2 separate regions of the Homo sapiens genome follow, and region 2 is linked to region 1. Evidence: fine-mapped expression QTL. A gene starts in region 1. The other region holds a variant in brackets. All regions are shown on one strand. Distances are between the middles of the regions. Region 1 holds the start of NOSIP (nitric oxide synthase interacting protein). Region 2 has its middle 21 kb from the start of RCN3.

Region 1 (2,910 bases):
TCCCGGGTAGTTGAGATTACAGGTGCGCACCACCACGCCTGGCTAATTTTTTGTATTTTTAGTAGAGATGGGGTTTCACCATGTTGGCCAGGCTGGTCTCAAACTCCTGACCTCAAGTGATCCACCCGCCTCGGCCTCCCAAAGTGCTGGGATTACAGGTGTGAGCCACTGCGCCCGACCAGGAGTCCTATTATTATCCCCAGTATAGAGAACAGGAAACTGAGGCACAGAGAGGTAATATAGCTTGCCGAAGGTCACACAGTGTGCAAGTGTGAGAGCCAGGATTTCAGTGAAGGCAGTGTCCGCCAGAGAAGAAAGCAAGGAGCAGGCAGCTTATCTTTCTTTCCCCACTGTGTCTACAGCACCTGACACAGATGCTTATAAACATGTCCACTGGTGATCTGGAGTCTTCCCTTCCTGGTAATTTCCACTTGTGCCTCTTTCTGTGCTCATTGTCACATCCACCCACAGACAACAAAGATTACGAGAGAGGCAGAGGCAGGGGATTAGTTATATTATTGGGTCTAGGGACCTAAGTGGGCAGGGGCCCTGGACTCCTGGGCCTAGGAGCCCCAAACTTCTGGGTCTCGGAGGGGCGGGGAGCCAGGATGCCTGGGTCCCCAAGCCAGGCTCTTCCTCCAGGGACATTCACTTACCTGCCCAGAAATGTGAGCACTGCCCCTTCCTCTTTAATCGAGAACTCCTTGGCCAGCTACAGCCAGCTGTGAAAGGGGACAGGGAAGAGGGGAGGGGATAAGGAGGAGGGGCGCCCCACTCCCGGTAACCAGGCCTGATCCCCGTTTCTGGCAGGTGGGCGGAACTTGCCATTACCTGCCCTGGGCGGGACTCAGGTAAGGGACAAAGTATTTAAAGGGACCTTGGGATAAAGGACTTAAAGGCCAGAGCTCCATGAGGAAGCCAAGGTGTCGAATACCATGGGATACCTGGGGGATTAGATTCGACCCTCCTCCTCCCTCCCGACCCCTACCCGCTCTGGCTCTCCCCTGGGAGTTCGTCTGTCCGAGCTAGAAAAATTAATATCTAGGTCTCTAGGTATCTAGAAACTAGCGGGAACGATATGCCTTAGTCCCTGGGACAGCTGGGCAGTGCCGCAGTAAATCCCTGTTTCCTGAGAGCGACTTGAACGGCTTTGATTTTCAATTTCCCAATGGCTCTGTCTGTAAAATGGGAGCGTAGTTGTCTCTTCTCAATTGTTTTAAGATGCAGCAAGAAAAGTGGATGATATATTTGGGAAAGTGGGCTTCCCGATCTCTAGGGGAAGTGATTAGTCCTTAAATTTGGGCTTGGAGAGACTCAAAACCTGGGAACCAAGCAGGAAAAAACGATCTCCCTGGGAAATGCCTCGTACATAGTAAGCGTTCCCCATATTCCCACCAGTTTCAATATCCGGAACTTTCGATTAGCTACTCACGTTTCCGGAGAGAGAAAGAGAAGAGAGGACTTGAGCAAGCCAGGCGAGGCACTTCCGCAACTAGGGGCAGCTCTACTTCCGGTGCCTTCTGCTGGGCGGAAGTGGGCGGAGCGGAGGGGGAAAATAGTGCTCCTTTCCGGTGTCGGGGCACAGTTGAAGAAGCGACCGAGGGACTGGGAGTCGTTAGTGAGGTGAGTTCGAGGCGGTGCAGGAAGAGTGTTGCTGGGATCGCTTTCCTGCGGGCTAGAGGCCTGGGGTCTTGAGGGAGACTGGGGCAAGATTTTGGATTCCCGATTCCCTGTCAATCATTATTAATACAGCTGTCCGGGCGCCCCAAGTTTGAAGCTGAACTACACTCTGCTGGAGGTGGCCAACCGTCCATCGGGCAGTTCTCTCTCTCTTTGTCTCTCTCTCTCACTATAAACTCAGTCAAGTGGTAGCTAGCATCGGCCAGTTCTCCTGAGAGTTACAGTTCTGCTGTAGATGATGGCTATTTGCTGGTGGTCCCAAGGGAAGGAGTGGACTGGGATTGCTGGGGGTCTAAGGAGTGGGAGTTGAGGAGGGAGAACTCCTTTCCTGGCCTCAGTTTCTCAGACTGTGGTGGGACGGCGGGCGATACTAGATTGTGCAGTCATCCATCGCCACCTTCTCTTCACCTTTTTGACAGCCCCTTCCCTTTCGGGGTTGGTGCAGGGATTCACGTTTTCTTGTGTGGAGCTTCGGGGTCAGGCAGTCATGGATTCCCATTCTGATTGTGCTGCTAATTCTGTGAACTTGGGGCTTGAACGGTCCTTGAGGCAGTTTGATGTTAATGTTTTCTTACGAAAATGTTCAAACTTATATAAAAGTGAGAGAAGAATACAGGAATTCCTGTCACCCAAATCACCAATGATTATTTTTGCCATACTTGCTGTATTTTTTTAAACTTAAAGAGATTAAAACAAATCGTAGGCATCATGACACTTAAGGATTGTCAAAAGACAAAATTGCAACACATTTAGTGAGAAGATCTTAATTGGCATTTATTCGTGAATCTACAATCAAACAACATCTAATTATGGAAAATAGCGTGAGTGTTCCGATGAGCTGAGCAGAGGTTGTTTTCAGAGACAAAGGGCTGAGAAAATCAGAAACGGAAAACAAAAAGCTAGTTGATTAAATTGATTAACTTGATTAAATTTCTAAGTTAAAGGTTAAAGTAGAGGGGACTTCCTTTATCAGGTGGGCTAAAACTGGGTTGTTTGGGGATTTGGCTATTATCTCTCTCCTGATATCTCAGAAGATCAGATATCAACTTAGTTTTGGCTTGGAAGCATGGAACTTTAGCATGAGTGTCTCCATTTTGGTTTGGTCTGTTGAACCTAGTGCAGGAGCTCAATCCAAACCAATGACCTTCTATAAATTTTATCTAACAGGGTGCGTGTGTAAAAACCAGAAACATTGCTGATATGACCACAATACCATCATCACACTTTAAA
Region 2 (2,910 bases), 31 kb after region 1:
GTGAGCTGAGATCGTGCCACTGCATTGCAGCCTGGAGACAGAGCGAGACTCCATCTAAAAAAAAAAAATCAGCCCAAGCAAGGTGGTTCACGCCTGTAATCCCAACACTTTGGGAGGCCGAGTCAGGAGGATTGCTTGAACCCAGGAGTTGGCGACCAGCCTGGCCATTGTAGCAAGACCCCATCTCTACAAAAAAGAATACATTAGCTGGGCATGGTGGTGCCCACCTGTAGTCCCAGCTGCATGGGAGACCGAAGCCAGAAGATGGTGTGAGCCCAGGAGGTCCAGCTGTGATCCCACCTCTGTATTCCAGCCTGGGTGACAGAGTGAGACATGTATAAAAGGAAAAATCAGCTTCACAATTCCCCTCCTAGTTATCTACCCAAGAAACTGAAAACAGGTCCACACAAAAATATGTACGTGATCTGGGAGGCCGAGGTGGGCGGATCACGAGGTCATGAGTTCGAGACCAGCCTGGCCAGCATGGTGAAACCCTATCTCTACCAAAAATACAAAAATTAGCCAGGCGTGGTGGCAGACACCTTTAATCCCAGCTACTTGGGAGGCTGAGGCAAAACAAATGCACATGAATGACCCTAACAGCACCATTCACCATAGCCCAGAAGTGGAAACAACCCAAAAGCCCGTCAGCTGATGAGTGGAGACAAAATGTGGTCTAGCCCGTGCCATGGAATATTACTCAGCCCTAAAAAGGAATGACGTTGGGCCGGGCGCAGTGGCTCATGCCTGTAATCCCAGCACTTCGGGAGGCCGAGACGGGCAGATCATGAGGTCAGGAGATCGAGACCATCTTGGCTAACACGGTGAAACCCCATCTCTACTAAAAATACAAAAAATTAGCCGGGTGTGATGGTGGGCACCTGTAGTCCCAGCTACTCGGCAGGCTGAGGCAGGAGAATGGCATGAACCCGGGAAGTGGAGCTTGCAGTGAGCCGAGATCGCGCCACTGCACTCCAGCCTGGGCAACAGAGTGAGACTCCATCTCAAAAAAAAAAAAAAAAAAAAAAGCAATGACGTCCTGACACGGGCTACAGTGTGGATGGATCTGGAAAACATGCTGAAAGAAGCCCAGCACGAAAGGTCACACGTACGATTGCATTTATAATGAGATGCCCAGAATAGGCAAATCCATAGCAAAAGAAAGTAGTTAGTGGCTGTCCGGGGCTGGGAGTGCAGAGAGAGAGGGGATAGTGACTGCTGATGGGGTGTGGGTTTTTTTTTTTTTTTTTTTTTTTTTTGAGACAAAGTCTGGTTCTGTCACCCAGGCTGGAGTGCAGTGGCACGATCTTGGCTCACTGCAACCTCCGCCTCCCGGGTTCAATCGATTCTCTTGTCCCAGCCTCCTGAGTAGCTGGGATTACAGGCATGTGCCACCACGCCCGGCTAATTTTTGTATTTTTAATAGAGATAGAGTTTCGTCATGTTGTCCAGGCTGGTCTTGAACTCCTGGCCTCAAGTGATCTGCCCACCTTGGCCTCCTGAAGTGCTAGGATTACAGGCGTAGCCACCACGCCCGACCAAGGGTTAATTTTATGGCCTGTGAATTTTATCTCAGCTTTTAAAATATCAGAAGATCTGACTTC[G/C]TTAGAAGCTCCACCTGGCTCTTTGCTCCCAGCGTGTTGTCAACAGCATGGGGATTTGATCTGCTGATCTGCAAGTGGGGAGGTCACCAACGGAAGAACTAAAAGCAAAAACAGTTCAAAAGTTTATTCTAATAAGCGTTGGTCAGGATGTGGAGAAACTGGAACTTGTCTACAACGCTGGTGGGCACGTAAACTGGGGAAATGAATTGGCAATATCGATTAACGCTAAAAATGCGCCTAGCCGGTGCTCCACTACCTCACTCCTGTGTGTGTACCCCAAAGACATGCGACGATGCTCAGCAAAACACGAGCTAGAATGGCTGGGCGCAGTGGCTCCTGCCCATGATTTCAGCACTTTGTGGGACTGGGGTAGGAAGATTGCTTGAGCTTAGGAGTTTGAGACCAGCCTGGACAACATGGTGAAACTCCATCTCTATTAAAAATACAAAAATTAGCTGGGCGTGGTGTTACACGCCTGTAATCCCAGCTACTAGGGAGGCTGAAGCACGAGAATCGCTTGCAGCTGGCTGAGATCAGTGAGCTGAGATCAGTGGAGTGCAATGGCACAATGTTGGCTCTCTGCAACTGGAGTGCCACAGTACTCTGGCCTAGGTGGCAGAGCAAGATTATGTCTTAAAAAACGCAGGCCAGGGCCAGGCGTGGTGGCTCATACTTGTAATCCCAGCACTTTGGGAGGCTGAGGTGGGTGGATCACCTGAGGTCAGGAGTTCGAGACCAGCCTGGCGAACATGGTGAAACCCTGTCTCTACTAAAAACGCAAAAAGTAGCCAGCCACGGTGGCCGGCACCAGTAATCTCAACTACTAGGAAGACTGAGGCAGGAGAATCTCTTGAACCCAGGAGGCGGAAGTTGCAGTGAGCTGAGATTGAGCCGCTGCTCTCCAGCCTGGGCGACACAGCAAGACTCCATCTCAAAAAACAAAACAAAACAAAACAAAAAACACACACACAAAACAAACAAACCAAAAAACGCGGCCGGAAGCGGTGGGTGACACCTGTAATCCCAGCACTTTGGGGGGCTGAGGAGGGCAGATCTCGAGGTCAGGAGTTCAAGACCAGCCTGACCAACATGGTGAAACCCCCTCTCTGCTAAAAATACAAAAATTAGCAAGACATGGTGGTTCACGCCTGTAATCTCAGCACTTGGGAGGCCGAGGCAGCCGGATCACCTGAGATCAGGAGTTCGAGACCAGCCTGGCCAACATGGCGAAACTCCGTCTCTATTAAGAATACAAAAAATGGCTGGGCGCGGTGGCTCACCCCTCTAATCCCAGCACTTTGGGAGG

What was found. PIP is the estimated chance that this variant, and not a neighbour inherited with it, causes the effect.
Region 2: its variant is fine-mapped to the expression of NOSIP in whole blood (INTERVAL, PIP above 0.99).

The regions. Positions count from the first base shown.
Region 1 is chr19:49,579,228-49,582,137 of GRCh38, reverse strand. It overlaps NOSIP (nitric oxide synthase interacting protein), which reads left to right and starts at 1,582. Exons shown (of 9, transcript NM_001270960.2): 1 at 1,582-1,623. It overlaps PRRG2 (proline rich and Gla domain 2), which reads right to left and starts at 822. Exons shown (of 7, transcript NM_000951.3): 1 at 657-822.
Region 2 is chr19:49,547,985-49,550,894 of GRCh38, reverse strand. No RefSeq gene overlaps it. Among named protein-coding and RNA genes, the nearest start is that of RCN3, 21 kb to the right of the region's middle. The variant G/C (reference allele first, on the strand shown) is at 1,605.